Linked DNA regions of Homo sapiens: region 2 is linked to region 1. The links come from fine-mapping of genetic effects on gene expression. Tissue or cell type: lung. Region 1 holds a variant in brackets; the other region holds the start of a gene. All regions are shown on one strand. Distances are from middle to middle.

What was found. PIP is the estimated chance that this variant, and not a neighbour inherited with it, causes the effect. A credible set is the group of variants that fine-mapping cannot tell apart.
Region 2: it holds the start of SYT16, and the variant in region 1 is the best candidate, but not a certain one, in a credible set for the expression of SYT16 in lung (TOPMed, PIP 0.72).

Annotation. Positions count from the first base shown.
Region 1 is chr14:61,933,223-61,941,407 of GRCh38, forward strand. All of the region lies in intron 1 of SYT16 (synaptotagmin 16), which reads left to right. Among named protein-coding and RNA genes, the nearest start is that of SYT16, 120 kb to the left of the region's middle. The variant C/T (reference allele first, on the strand shown) is at 3,562.
Region 2 is chr14:61,808,755-61,816,939 of GRCh38, forward strand. SYT16 (synaptotagmin 16) reads left to right here and starts at 3,949. Exons shown (of 8, transcript NM_001367656.1): 1 at 3,949-4,056.

The DNA.
Region 1 (8,185 bases):
TGAGAGCCGGGAGGAGGGGAAGAGACAGACACAAAGCTCCTTTCCCATTGTCTGTTTTCACAAAGATTCTGGCTATAGAAAGAAGGTATCTGAATCTGAAGCAAGAGGTCTCACTTAGTGTCCCTAAAATTACAAAATAAAATCAGTGAAAGTTGGAATAATCAAACCTGACTCTTTCACCCTGTTTTCCCAGCCTCTACCCTATACTCATCCCTGAATGTAGGACTGTATAGTACAGTTATGTGATTTTTCTCTCAAAAGTCCAAGGGTGAAGAGCTGTTCTAATCAATCCATGGACTCTGAAACAAAAGAGATGCCAGGAGAAACAAAACAAAACTGTCCTTTTCAGAGTTGAGCTGTTCTGGTCACCATTTACCTCCTCTTGCCCTAGTCTCTGGGAGAGTGTGCACTCACAATGTGACCCCTTCCCAGCTAAAGGGCTAGTTGTGTGCAGAGGCCAGCACTGTTCCTGTTAGTATGATGGCTCAGGGTAGATAGTGAGGGTTAGGTTATCAGACACAGTGGAGTACTGCCTAGCTGGCAAAGCGTTTGGACATTTACAAAATAAGCTATTTTCTATTTAAGAAAAAAACAGTCTATACTAGAAGAATAGAAAATAAGGAGGATATTTAAAAATACTTATATTCTATTTCCCTAGTCTCCAAATTAGCATTTTAATACAAATTGTGTGTATGTGTATATATACATATATATACACACGTACACATGCATATTTGTGTGTATATATGAGAGTGTGTGTATATATGTATGTATACAAGTACATAGTCATATATATATATGCACACATACATTCATGTATTACTATTGTTTTTGTGGAAATAAAGATTTTGCTGCATATACTTTTTCTGTATAAACTTTTCATTCAACCAGCTTATGAGATATTTCTATGCTTATAACATTCATGATTGTATAAACTTATTTTGTTTGCTTTTTAAATCACATAGATATACTATCATTTGATTCAACCTTTCTTTCATTTTGACATTTAGTTGATTTCTATTTTTCTATTTCTTCAAATCATTCTCTGCTTACATTTTTTTGTACCTATATGTAAATGGCTTAAAAAGTACATGGCAAGTCAACAAGTCCCCATTAAATGTTAATCATCTCAAGTTTCTTTTTTTGTTGTTAAAGTGGTGATTCAGCCTGAGAAAACCTCTGTATGACAAAAAATGTAGAATGCTTTATGAATGTGTAAATCCTAAACTGACATGTAATACCGGAATTGAGGCACTGTTATGCAAAGGAAACTCTGGGAAGAAATGATGTGGTTTGGGACTACACTTGTGGGTAGCACGTGCTTAGATGTATTATTATAGCCAGTGCTATAAGGAGATGACTAAGTTATTTCACCACATTGAGATTTTATTGTGGTGACCCAAAAGCGTTGGATGCAGCATAGTGGGCAGAGATTGGTCTGGACTGAGGCAAGCTCCATTCTAGTTCTGCCTCTCACTAGCTTGTGGAACCTGGGACAAATCCTGTTTCCTTACCTGCAAAGTGATAGAATTGTTCTAGTTGACCTCTGAGGTTCCTTTCAGATCTAAAATCCCATTATTTGAAGATGACTCTTCTCTGTTTAATTCATTTGTAACCCATAGTGAAAACAAAGTGGACTTGCAATACACTTCCCAGAGTTTAAAACTTTGTGGCTTGGGTACATTATGGCAATTTTATTATCGTGAACTCAGTACAGTTTTGCGAAAGAGTATTTTCATTCCTTCTTCCTTTTTATTTTCAAAATTTATTTATTGCATAAATTTAAGGTGTGCAACATGATATTTTGATATGTATGGGAAAATGATTACCACAGGCAAGCAAATTAATATATCCATCACCTTCTACAGTTATTTCTTTTTGCCCATTCCTTTTTCCCCTCTAATTTTACTTGGGGGCGGCACTACTTTCCATTGCAGGCAGTTTGGGTGGGGCTGTCAATCAGATGGCCTTGCTCCTCCAGCCAAGAGGTCAGCATGACCTTTCAATAGGGGAACTCAAGGCCCTGCGGTGATTGAAGCTGATTCACGCCGACAGTGGCTCCCATTAATTTCTCCTACGCAGATGCCCACACTGTCCTCATTCTGGCCCTTTTCATGTCTTATTTGTTCCCTTTTCTTTCTATCTGGTGGTCTTTGCATATTTTTTCATTATAGTTTGGTTGCATTTTTTAGCCAGAGTCATTCTGCTGCCTGCAGAAGAAAAGTCCTAAGCCTTGGTCGCTGGTACTGGCCTAGCCTGGCTCTTCACCTAACTGGGGCTTTGTAACCAATGGGCACCTTGGTCATTCTCTAAGCCTGTGTGTCCTGATCTATACCAGTGAGGGTAAGAAAACCGATCTAGTTGTTGGGGTGGTGAAACGGACCAAGCACAGAGTCGACACGTGGCAGTTTCCCTTCAACCTAGAGTTTCTCTGGGAAAGTGTTTGGCCTGTGAATTTAGGACCTTCACCTGGATGTGTCCCATGTGGGCTCTAAGTCGGTAGAGTTAGAAGGATGTTTCTGGTAGTAATTATGGTTAGTTTGTTCTTGATCTTGCTTTGCATCGTGGTAAGCACATAGTAGGTTCTTTTGAATGTATTTTAGAAATCATTAAATAAGAACATATGAAAACATTTTGTTATGTGTTTTAATAGTACATTTTTTCATAATCATCAATGTTTTAATACATTGAGTAAAGGGCGCAAGTATTCTGACCCTTCAGCCAGGGTTTGTAAATGTTTTAGCTCTGAGAAACTTGTGTCTAACTATATTGCTTTAATGGAATTTCAGTTGTATAGCACTGCTTTAATTATTGGAATCTTCTTTAGAAAAAAAACCTCTGAGATTTGAGATAAGTTTACATATTATTATATGAATCACAATTTGCTTTAAGAGCTTATCTAAATCCCATCTGTTTGATTGGAAAAAGGAACTCGGAATGAATCCATCTGATTTTCAGTTTTCTTCCTTGGAGAGAATCGTGATTGAGAGTCAGAGTGGGGTTATGCGCTGCCTCTTTTTGATGGTTTCTAGAGGAAGTTTTAGGGTTTCCATAGCAATGCATGAGGAGTCATCATTTTCTGCCATGATTTCCCAGCAAAGAAAAAAGTACTGATAACTATGGTTTAGTAGAAATGAAAAAGTTGATACTAGATCATTTTAAATTTGTTCCGGCTGCTGGGGGATAGATAGGGCAGAGCATCATTCTATCAGCTGGAAGTGACTGACTCCCAGTGCCACAAGGCGGCTAATGAGTTCACTAATCATCAGTGGTAACGTCACAGAAATACATTTCTTATTTTGATTAGGAATAACACAGGGAAGAGGTCCTGCCATAATTGTCCCGAGATTCCATAGAGAATTTGCATTTTAGAATGTAATGATGTTGCTGCACCTCCTCTATCACTTTTTCTCTCTTCATTTTCCACATCCCCCGGACTTTCTCTCTGCTCCCTGTGCCACCTGTCTGTCCCCTCCTCCGTTCTATGTCTGCCTCTATAGCCATGTTCCTTTACATGATTGCCTTAGCTCTTTGACGCTCCCAGAGAGAGGGTCACAAGCC[C/T]AGGTACCATCCTCGGCAACTTTTCATCACCCTCAGGCTGCTGGGCCTGACATGTTCCCTTCCTTGAACAATTCAACCTGTTTTCAGGTTTTCTAAAAATGGCAGCATTTATACCTGATGTCACAAGGGGTACCCGTGCATCCTTGTTTTGTGAAATCTGAACAAATTGTTCTCATTGGTGAATTTACAAGGACTAAAAATCCTCATCAGCTGTCCAGCATAACCATGAACTTGTCTTACAGACAGCAAAAGCCAGCAAAAAAGACTGTGCCAGGAACGGTGCTATCACTTGCTTCAGTGGAAGCTGGGCTGGCTGGAGCAGGGATTTCCCCGTGGATGGTGATGTCTCTGTGATTCTATTTCTAAGAGCTTCAAAGTTTACATTTGCTTTAAACTGATTTTGCTTTGAAGCAGTAGTTCATCATGATTTTTAAAGTTGGTTATCATTTGTAATTGCTGGAGCAAGGCCAGTGTTAATGGCAACCATGCCTTGCAGTTTGAAATGTTTTCTCTCCTTGTTTAACAGAGTTAATTGGTTTAGTGAGTTCTTGAAAAGAAAAGGCGATCCTTTGCCCTGGGGGAAGACTAACTTCCTTACTTTGCCAATTATGAGGGGAAGTCCTTTGAAAGTAAGGTACATAGGAGCTGTAAGACTTACTTAGCTTTTAGATTTTATTTATCAGTTTCCAACTCCGACCTGTGCTCAATCTCCACTGCTCCTCTGCCTTTTTGGTTAAAATTACTGAAGCGTTTGCTGACAAAGTCTCTAATTATCTCAGGACCAGTCAGGGTAATTTCTTGATGTACAGCCACTGTGGATGGGCAGGAAGCCCCACTTGCCTTTCCATGGAGATCTGGAGAGTGTTGGGACAATTTTCAATAAGAGATTATTGTTGTTTCAGTGGCAGAAATGGAAGTCAGCTTTAGGCACCAGGCTTCCCAGATATGATGTGGCATTTGGCTTTGTTGGGTTAGAGAACTAGAGGAAAGAGGAAGGATGGAAACTTGTCCCTAACTTGGCAGTGGGAAACCCCAGGGACTCCCATGTTTATGGTCAGGCTTATAATTGATCCATGTGTCTATGTGTCAATCACACATATTGACAGAATACCCGCTTGTACAAGTATAAGGGTCAAAATGGCATATGAGTGTCCTGCCTTTGAGGAGTTTACAGTCCATTGAGGAATACCCATTTTAACTTTCATCTGAGGCCTCTTCTGTTGCCCCAACCTCCTACCCCGCAACACACACACACACACACACACACACACACACAGAGTGTTTCAGACAGGAAACTTGGAGGGATGAGACCACATATCTAGACTATAAGTTTAATTTTTCAATTAATTACCGAAGGATAAAGAACTTTTTAAGAAATGAGATACGCAAACAGGGTGGGGATTGCTACAGGCTCTGCTTTCACACGTTTTCCTCCTTATCTGCTTCCCTGGTGTTTATTGAATGATACTGTACCCAAAACCCTGTGATAGACACTGTATGAGCTGGGTGGGGAGGATACAAGGAATATTAGACGTGGGCCTTCAAGGGCTTCACAAAGTAGAAAACAGCTGCCCAGCTTGCCAGATACGAGATGTTTGCCAGGTAAGTAGTGTGGGAGTGCCATACAGTTCACCTTCAGGGTTGGCTGGGTGGGAGGGGACTTGACTAGGAAGGCATTCTTGGGGAGGGGATTGGATTAAAGGTCCAGAGGCCTAGAAATGAATAAATAATGCTCTCTCCAGGGCAATGCGCTGAGGTTGTTAACTCTGTGGAACTACAAGGCTTCCTTTGGGGGCACAGTGGGATAAACCTGGAGTTGACCTTAAGAGACAAGCAAAAGGATTTAAGGGGTATCCTTAAGAGACAAGCAAAGGAATTTGGGCTTTATATTGTAGCTAATGAGAAACCATTAACACCAGCTAAGGGGGACTGACATGGTTAAAAAACAGGTGAAGATGAATTTTGTTTGATGCTAAGAAGGATGAATTTAGGGGACAGAGGGAGTGTGGAAACAGACTCTAAAGGGATTTTGTGGTAATTCCTAAAGGATATAAAAAGGACAGACATGAGGCTGGGTGCGGTGGCTCACGCCTGTAATTCCAGCACTTTGGGAGGCCAAGGCGGGCGGATCACTTAAGGTCAGGAGCCCGAGACCAGCCTGGCCAGCATGGTGAAACCTCGTCTCTACTAAAAATACAAAAATTAGCTGGGCATGGTGGCGGGTGCCTATAATCCCAGCTACTTGGGAGGCTGAGGCAGGAGAATTGCTTGAACCCAGTAGGCAGAGGTTGTAGTGAGCTGAGATCGTGCCACTGCACTCCAGCCTGGGCAACAGAGTGAGACTTGGTCTCAAATAAAAACAAAAACAAAAAAACCAAAAAAGGACATGAACCAGGGCATTATGTGTCTGGGAACTTTGCTATAGAAGTCTGGAGGACCTTTAATTATTCTCTCCTCCTGTTCCTGATGGATGCATAATCCCCCCAAAGCACTAACTGGCAGTCTGTTTTAGGGCCAGGAAGCACATGGTTGTTCAGTGAGACAGCTAGCAAATAATCCTCCTGTGCACACCTACAGTTTACGAAAGACACTGTATTAGTCCACTAGTGCTGCTTTCACAAATGCCACCAACTGCAAAGCTTCAACAGCAGAGATCTATTTTCTCACAGTCCTGGAGGACAGAAGTCTGAGATCAAGGTGTCCGCATGATTGGATCCATTCTGAGGCTTCTTTGCTTGGGCTCTACATGGCCATCTCCTTCTGTCTTCATACGATCTTTCCTTCACGTGTGTACATGCCTGTGGCCAGATTTCCTCTTTTTATGAGGATGCCAGTCGTGTTGGATCTGGGCCCACTTTTAAGCCCTCATTTTATCTTCTCTCTAAAGACCTTATCTCCAAATACAGTGACCTTCTGAGGTACTAGGGGTTAGGATTTCAATCTGTGAATTTTATGGGAGACACAGTTCAGTCCATCACAGTGTCTAAGGGGGAAGAAAAAGGACGAATGGAAGGACAGAGGCCAAGCACCTCCCCTGACCTCTCATCCCAGGCCCTCACTGTACACCTGAGTCCTATCTATGGTGATAAAATGGGTCACCTCCACAGAGAAAGTTCCCTGAGCCAGCTTCCTGTCATTCTTTTCTAGGAGAATTTAGGCTGATGTCATCTGGGGGCTTTTCAACTCCCAATCTTAGAATTAGCAGCCTTTCTCCTTTTTTTTCAAAAAAACTCTGGCAATGCTCGTTTCTTACCATATTTATTGCAGTCAACTGTTTATGTGCATGATAATTTTTATAATGATGTGAGGAAATCTCTGAAGATGAACAGAATATACAGAATAAACAGATGCATTAAGTTGCAACTACATAGTTTTCATTATTGTCCTTTTCACGGGGTTAGCACATATTTTTGAATTCTTTAACCTCAGCTTTTGAGGTGACATTCCTTTTATTTCTATTTTTTTTTTTCTGTTTCCATCTACTGGCTTAGGCTGATGCTTAAAGGTCCTCATGTTATTGCTTCCAAATTCTTGTTCCTCTCTCTTGATTTGAGACTAAATGGCTCTCCTCACGGCCACTGAATCCCTATTGACAGTGTCTGTTGCATTCTAGCTTCAAATAAACAACAACAAAAAAATCCCCTAAAAACCTATGATAAGGCAGAATAGCAGAGTGATTAAAATAGGGTCTTGAGCCAGACTGCCAGGGTAAAATTCTGGCTCTGACACAGCATTCTGCAACTTTGGATAAGTCATTCTCTAAGCCTCAGTATATTTCTCATCTGTTAAGTGATAATAATAATAATTTCAATGTCTTAGGACCCCTGTCAGATTTAAATGAGCATAAAGTGCCTGGCACATAGTAAATGCCATGTAAGTATAAAGTATAATAATTATTATTCTGCTTGTCTTTGTTCTGAGTAGCTTCCCTGGAGATTCAGATCTTGCTTGGCCCCTTCTCCATTTCCCTCCCTCTCAGGTTTTCCTTTTGTCACCCACATAGTGGTGGGGCAGGCTTCCCTGGAATGCTCTTCAGACCGGCTGTTCCTAGATCAGACTGAGAACCGGAATGGTTGACAAGGTCTGTATGTTTTGCTTGCCTGGGGGCAGATCTGCTTGAATAATCACAGATAGGCTTTGCCTTCCCTTCCAGACTCCACTGAAATGAAAGGCTTCCTGGGCCTTAGGGGAGACTGTGACATTTGCCCCTTTCCCGTGCAGAAGGACCACTTATTTGGAAGCAAGAGTTACAATCTAAGGGAAAGTTTGGACGGGCATGTTACAATGGGGAGGGGTAGTGCTCCTTTTGTTATGTTAGCTTGGGATCTATAGACAAACACATGCCTATCAGTGTTGAAGGTGAGGTTCTCTGGCTCAGTAGGGTTAATTGCACAAACGCCAGCCTCTTTCCCTGTGCCAGTGGCCTGCCTTGGGTCAGCCGCTGCCAGGACTTTACCAGTCACTAGCTATCCCTTAGTGATGCCTCGTTAAATGCTTCATCATCCAAGGACTCCAAGGGCTCAGATTCACAGCTCTACCATTCAGGCTTCAGCTCATATATAAACCAGTAATAATTCAGATCTACAACAGTATCCTCACTCTTTGGGCTATTCTTTGCCTTGGG
Region 2 (8,185 bases), 120 kb before region 1:
ACAGCAGTGAGGCAAGAGTCTGCCGAGGGTATACGAAGACGATGGCAGACACTGACGGTGGGCCAGGCAGTCATTCCCACCCCCTTCTTCCTTGTTGGCAGAATCCACTTTGTGCCATAAACGCTGAAAATAACAGATGCTTGCGTTCCCAGCCTCCAGTGCCACCAGAATGGTGGAGAAGGCCTTTGAGGGCTTTTACAAAGATTTCTTTCTCTGATAAAAAGAAAGAGACGAGGCTGGGCGCGGTGGCTCACGCCTGTAACCCCAGCACTTTGGGAGGCTGAGGTGGGTGGATTACTTGAGGTCAGGAGATTGAGACCGTCCTGGCCAACATGGTGAAACCCTGTCTCTACTAAAAATACAAAAATTAGCTGGGCATGGTGGTGGAAGCCTGTAATCCCAGCTACTCGGGAGGCTGAGGCAGGAGAATCACTTAAACCCGGGAGGCTGAGGTTACAGTGAGCCAAGATCACACCACTGCACTCCAGCCTGGGAGACAGAGTGAGACTCTGTCTCAAATTAAAAAAAAAAAGAAAAAAGAAAAAAAAAGAGTGAGAATGACAAGGAGGAATATCCCCCTCTCCTACCAGATTTGGGAGATTTTGTGCTGCAGCAGCCTTACTGCCGAGGAGGAAAGTGGGGAGTCCAAGTTCTTATGGGCGTTGTGGAGATGCTAAATCAACCACGGGTGGATCCCTTGATATATAACAAGGTGTGTTATTGTTTAAGCCACCTTATGCAGTTACATGGGGCTGAAAACATCCAATACCCCTTCTTAGAAAAGCATCCCATTGTCATGCATTGGCTGGGAGGTGGTAGAACTTCCAGATAGGCTGGGGAAATTGAGCCATAAGGGGACCTTTGTCTCATGTCACATTAAATGTCTTGCTTGGTGGTCCATCATGCAGAGCTCCCCTCCACCACATAGTAAGGGAATGGTAAGAAAGAAATGGTTGTTTGGCTTGTTAGAAAAGGCCTGAGACTCCACAGATCTCACTGTTTTCTTAGAATGGAATGGGTGAGTAGCCAAACTTGTCCTCTCCAGAGCAACAGGAAAGTCAAGGAGAAAAAGTCAGACCTGAAGGGGCTTTGGTGTGGAGGAGAAGACAGAGTGGTGGCTGCCACCCACACTCATGGCTGTGGAGGTCTGACGAGCTCTGAGGTCCAGACAGAAGAGGTACCTCCCAAAAGGGACAGATGGGGCCTGATACCTCTTACCATCCCTGATGCTACCCAACCTGTCCTTCCAAACATGGATGCAACCCCAAGAAAAAATGGGGAAGGAAAACTCTGAATTGCCTGAGAAAAGCCTGAATCGATGTTTACCTTGAACTGAGTAAAATCAAACTCCCTAACAATGGGTCTAATAGGGGCTTGGGCCAGAAAGTTAATTTGGTTATAGAAAAGTGAAAATTTATTCTTTTATATATTAAATACTTGAATATGTGTACAGAAATCTATCTTAAAGCAAAACAAAACAAAAAACCCATCTTATCTTGATCCTGCTCTCTTCCAAAGCTCTCCATCCTCTTTCATTCCTTCACCATTAAACTTTTTAAGAGAATTATCTATGCTTGGGGCCTCCGCCTCTATGAAATCTACTTGTTCATTAACCCCTTCTCATCTGACATCTGGTGCTATGCAAACCTGCTATCCAACAGGTCCATTATTCAGAAATCATTTATTGAACATATCCTTTGAATTGTCATTTTTTTTCCTTTTTCTCATTTGGAAAAGCCAGTTTGATTAATGCATAAGGAGCCTCACACATGTTCCACTGACCCTTCAATTGAATCCAAGCCCAACCCACCCTTTTTGCCCTCACACCAGCTTAACCTCCTGGTTTGTGAGCTCCAAACAGGTTGAAGACTCCAGGGTCATGTTTAATTCTTTTTTCCTTTAACCTCCTGGTTTGTGAGCTCCAAACAGGTTAAAGACTCCAGGGTCATGTTTAATTCTTTTTTCCTTTTCCCCATCCAACCCACTTCCAGAGTGTTGGCTTTTGGGTCTACTGCAGATGGTTGTTGTGAAAGACAAATGAACCAGGTCTCTGTGGTTCTTAACTAGAAGTCTGCTTCAGAATCACCTGTGTTAAAACAAATAAAGGCTAAACACAATTTAAAAAAAGGACACCCCTAAGTGCTACTCTAGGTGGACTGAATCAGAATGTGGAGCCTGATCAGAATATTCTCTCCCTCATCGTGCTCTGTGAACTGACCAGAGAGGACTCCTGTGTTGTTCTCTGGCAGTTTTCTGTCTGCCTAGCCACGTGGGAGCTAGTGGATAGGCAGACGGGAGCCTTGCTCCTGAGTCTTCTCAGCATCCAGCCCGGGGCTGATTGGGTTGAATGTGCATCTCCAAATGCATCAAATGGATTGTATCTTTGTATTTTTATTTTATTTTATTTTTAAGACAGGGTCTCATTCTGTCACCCAGGCTGGAGTGCAGTAGTATGATCTCAGCTCACTGCGGCCTTCACCTCCCAGCCTCAAGTGATCTTCCCCCTCAGCCTACTGAGTAGCTGGGACCACAGGCATGCACCACCAGCCTGGCTAATTTTTGTTTTATTTTTTCTAGAGACAGGGTCTCACTATGTTGCCCAGGCTTGTCTCAAACTCTTGGGCTCAAGCTATCCACCTGCCTAGACCTCTCAAAGTGCTAGGATTACAGGCGTGAACCCGGCCCTTTTTTCTTCTTTTAAAAACTAGGGACAGGGTCTTGCTCTTTCACCCAGGCTGGAGTGCAGTGGTGCAATCATAGTTTACTGCAGACTTGAACTCCCGGGCTAAAGTGATTCTCCTACTTTGGCCTCCCAAAGTGTTGGGATTACAGGCTTAAGCCACCATGCCTGGGCGAAATGTATTGTATCTTTAAGAAGTATCTAGCCTGCCATGTAATTTAGGGGATGTGTTTGAGCCATTTGATCCTTCACATGATGGATCTGGTGGTGGAGACGGGGGTTTCTAATGTACAACTGTCCCCTAATATATTAGGTTGGTGCAAAAGTAATGGCAGAATAATCCAATAATCCATCAGAAATTGGTTTTTGGACTTCAAGAAGATGTATACAACATCATTCTGAACTGACAGCCTCAGTTCAGAGCCCTCCTGAACCACAATGGCCTGTGAGGCACAAGACTCCGGCTCACTCATTCGGCCTGGTCCACTTACTTACTCTAGCGTCCATCCCTAGTCAGTGGCAGGGCTGTAGTTGGCTATGATCATGTATCAGTTGCTCATCCAGTGGACGTCCAATCAGTTAGTTGGCCATTCATTCATTCATTCATGCAGGCATCCAGTTATAAAGACATCCATTCACCCACTCAACAGAAATCTGCTGAGAGCCTACTACGTGCTGGGAACTATTTTCACATCGGAGACAAAACAGAGGGTGACATGAAGAGCACGGCCCACTTGGAGCCTACGGAGATGGCGTTGAGCGGTTTCGCAGGAGAGCTCCTGCCCCGGAGGATTAATGCCCAGCACCTGGCTCATCCTCCCCACACCCCTAGCTCTTCTCCCGCTTTGCTCCTTCCAGCTGGGGCTGAGCATGGGGTCCCAACCCCGCTGGTGAGAAGCTCGAGGTAGGGATGAAGCGGAGAATGGAAAAGGTGACTCGAAAACAAGGATATAGCGGGAACGTTGTAGGAAAGGTGGCGTGGAGAGGCGACCCTAGCGTGGCCGGGAGCGTGTTTCCAAGTTGCGGCGAGCATCCTCTTTGGGGGAGGGGCGGGAAAGGAAAGGAGGGGAGGGGGACGGACGCGGCGAGGCGAGGAGGGGGAGATCCAGCCTCTAGGCGCCGCAGCTCGGCCGTTCTGCCCGGGAGGCTGGGCTCTCAGGACGCCGGCGGCGGCCGCAGGGCTGGCGGCTGCTGGGCGCGGGGCGGCGCGGGGCGGCGCGGCGCGGCGGGGGCGCGCGGCAGGAGGGGCTGTGCGCGGCGCGGCCCCCGAGCGCACCGGGCCTGCCGAGGAGCGCGCGCCCGGCCGGGCTCGGCGCCGGTTTCCCGAACCTGGGCGGCCGTCGGGCAGCCCCCTCGTCCGACCATGGCGACTGACAGTGAGTGCGCTCCGGCCGCGGAGGCCAGGGGTGGGGGGAGGCCGCGGTGCCCAGGGTGGGAAGTTCGATTTCAGACGCTGCCTTTGTGCTGGCTCGCGGCAGCAGCGGCCGGGTCCCTCTCCGCTCCTCACCCTTGGCTGCCTGGCGGGGCTTGAAAGGGCAGGTGGCCCTGGCGGCGCGCCCCGCGAGGGATGTGGCAGAAGGGCGTGCGCCTGGCGCCGAGGCGGAGGGACCCTCGATGCCGTGTGGCAGCGGGGCCTGCCATCGCAGCCCTTCGCGGGCACTGCCCCCAGGCCCAGAGCCAGCCTTCAGCGAGCCGGGCAAACGAAGGCACTGCGCGTTTTTGGCGCTGTGAGTTCAAGGTTCGCCTCGAGTTCTGGGTCGGGTTTGTGCGTCTGCCTTTTGGGGATCAGGGTGGCTTGCATGGCTCGGCTGCCCGGTGGCCCACGGGCTGTATTCGCAGCGGGCAGCACAAGGCCGGCTGGAGACCGCATCTGGTTACCATGGTCAGTGGGTGGGAGGAGTGCCTGGAGACATCAGGTTGAAACTCTGAATGGAAGCGTTGGAAGGCGCTGGGTTGGCCTGCTTTTGGCATCTTGGCACCGCTGCTCTTATGGCTCAGTGCCTTTGGAAATTGGAATCCCGTCTGTGAAAACTGGTTAAGTTAGTTGCGTTTGAAGCCAGATACGTATTAGTGAAGCTTCAAAGGGAGTTCAGAGTAAAACCAAGTCACACCTGCGTACCTAGCATCCAAAGTCCCTAGCACAGGTGTGGCGCATGTTAGGGACTTCATTAGATGAGTGAATGGGGCTGGATGTGCTGGCTCAGGCCTGTAATCCCAGCACTTTGGGAGGCCGAGGCGGGAGGATCACTTGAGCCCAGGAGTGCGAGGCTGCTGTGAGCTATGACCCTGCCATTGCACTCCAGTCTGGGCCACAGAGGAAAAAAACAAAAATCAAATGGTGTGCTGGCTACAGAGGCCCTTTGGAAGGTATTTTTTTTTTTTTTTTTTTGAGAGGTGAGGAGGAAAAGAGATGGGAAAATGAGATGTCAAAATTTCTGCAATAATTTATTATTTTTCTTGTAAACAATCATCCCAGCCAAGAACACAGCTTTAGGATAGTGTGGAGAGCTTGAGTTTTTGTAGTCAAACAGACCTGTATTTTATCTCTCTAGAATTCCCTAGCAGTGGGACCATGGCACTGTCCTCAGTTTCTCTAAATTAGGACAAGGCTGTCATTCATAGCTCTTACAAGCGATGGGCACACAGGTGGCCTTCAGTAAATGGTGGTTGTCCTCTCCCTGCTGTTTTGCCATCATCTGATATGTGTGGGGATACCAACATGCTTTCCTCCTTTTTAAAGAGAAAAATGTTGATCAGGTGTTTCCAGTAAAATCAGCTAATTTGGGCCAAATTTCCCTTTCCTCAGCTCTGTTCATTTATACAAAGTGTGATTCCATTCGTGTGTGTGTGTGTTTAGAAAAAAAATTATGGTTGAAGCTTTACTTAACAAAGTAAGACTCAACAAAGAAGGAGATCATGAGATTTGGCCTTATTGTGTTATTAATGAAAAACAAAGGCAAAGGGGTTCAAAGTATCTACCAGCAACTGTGCATCACACACATGCAGTGAGACACTGTTCTGCTATTTACTTTCTTATGTTTTGGTTAAGATGATACATTTAGTACCCTAGAAAAATAAACTGAGATGCTTCCATACCAATTTATTTAGATTGATGTTTCTTCTACTTCCTTATATGGTATACTCAACTGTACTGAAGAATCAAACTTTTGCCCATTGATTTTGTTTATGAAAAAATTATGATGATATCTGACCATCTCAGCTCTTGACCAGTTTTTTAGGCTCAATCTTATGTTCTTTCTTAGCTGAGATGGAGCTAGAAATCTGAAAGGTTTCCAAACTGTGGAGAAACATTATTTTGTCTTTTTTCTTATTCAAAACTAATGTGAGAGGCTTACTATGTGTCCCTACTATCAAAAGGGAGAGAAGGAAAGTATTCTCAGTCAGTGTCTTGAAAAATTTCCCGCAAAGCTTGACCATGTTTGCAGCCCGAAGTCCTACAACCTTCTGTTAGCATGGAGATGATTTTGAAAACGTAGAGCCCAGGGCTTCTCCCAGATACAGAATTCTTTAGTTAGCTCTGGTTCTTAGTCCTAGTTGCATATTAGAATTACTCCAGAGAGCTTTAAAAAAGACCCTGACATCAGTATTTTTAAAAAGGAGGTCTTAAACTTTAACATGCATCAGAGTTACTCAGAGGACTTATTCAAACAGATCGCTGGACTTCACTCCCAGAGTTCCTGATTCAGTAAGTCTGGGGTGCATCCTGAGAATTCACATTTCTAACAAGTTCCAGTGATACAGGAACTACTGTTCCTCTGTCCTTCTCCTTACCTCTGCAGGTGAGGAAGTGACAGGTGAGAGGGAGGTAGGAACAGAGTGATGATCACTTCTTTAGCAGTCCTGTCTTGTCACCATGCAGTGACTACATGACCTCGATAAGATAAATCAAACCTGGGCACAATATTGCCTTAGGGCTATAGCTGAGTGCTTCCCTCAACCCCCATTTTTCTCCCCCACAAAATTTCCCCTTGAGGGAAAAATTGGTTCTAAAACCAGGCGAAATCCAAGTATTCTATTCCAGTCATTTCTGGAGAGAATCCAGAAAGACCTTCTATATGAATGTAGCATGTAAATTATATAAAATATGGAGATATTTTTAAAATATTTGCCTGGAAACTTATAATGTTCACAAAAAAGAACATAGCCAATAGAAAATGTTCTTATATCTAGATAGCATGCTGTCTAAGGGCAGATTCCAGAGGAGAAAAGGGGAACTCGAGAGCTTCAACTAGGTTTTCAGTAAGTTATCATGAAATCGTGAGGAACTTTGAGATCCCAGTCTGTTATATAAAGTGGTGGTACTTGGGTACTGAACTATTTCATGATTTCCTCAGTGACAAGTATTCCAGATAATATTTTGTTTCCAGAACACAAAAGTAGTGAAGCGCTATTTTATTTTTTTATTCCATTTATGGCATATGTTGCATTATTAGTACTTCCTTTTATAGGTGTTTAGTTTTGAAGTCACTTTAATCTGTTTGTAAGAATAATTTCTTAGGATCAGCCAGGCATGTTTAGGTAATGTTGGAAACATCTAACTCTATTATACCCCAGAAATCTTGGGCAGTTTTCAGGTGGATGTGTCTTTGGGGCTGTGACAGATGAACATTTGGTATTGTAAAAGGAGACATCTGTCCCCGTTTGGGTGCTCCTGGTTTCCTGGCTGATCTTGTGTCATTTTTGCCTGTTGCATCCCAGGCTGATGTTCCTGCCCTGCAGTCAGTCTCCACCAGCAGCCACTTTTTCCCTCCTTCTTTCTTGTTGGCAACCTGCAGTTTCCTTTCTCCCCATCCTGTCTACTCCATCAGCAATTTCCACTCAGTGCTCAGTCCTGGAAGAGGGTGGGTGGGGGTCGGGGATCAAATATAAGCCCTCAACAAGTCCACGTTAGAAACTAGTGCTAAACAGTGACTTGAGATATTCAGGATTTCAGATGCCTAGACTTTAAAAGAAAATTGCTTCACTTTGGCTGAAAATGGATGGAAAATCTTGAGTTAAATGATTTCTAACCCTAGTCATTATTAAAAAGTTTACAAATGATGCCAACTAAAAAATATAGACAAAGAGAGTTAGAAAATTACTACTTTGAAACCATCATAGCAATAATTAATTCAAGCAAGATTCATCCATGGATGCTGAACTGTTATGTGAAAATTTTAAGAGGAACAGAATTATTTACATTGTTAAAGAATTTCCCCCAGGACAACCCATTTCTTTAGGATCCCTCTCTGCTGCAGAGAGCTCTTTCTTTCTTAGTTAAGAACTTCCACTCTTGGCCGGGCGCGGTGGCTCACGCCTGTAATCCCAGCACTTTGGGAGGCCGAGGCGGACGGATCACGAGGTCAGGAGATGAAGACCATCCTGGCTAACATGGTGAAACCCCGTCTCCACTAAAAATACAAAAAATTAGCCGGGCGTGGTGGCGGGCGCTTGTAGTCCCATCTACTCGGGAGGCTGAGGCAGGAGAATGGCGTGAACCCGGAA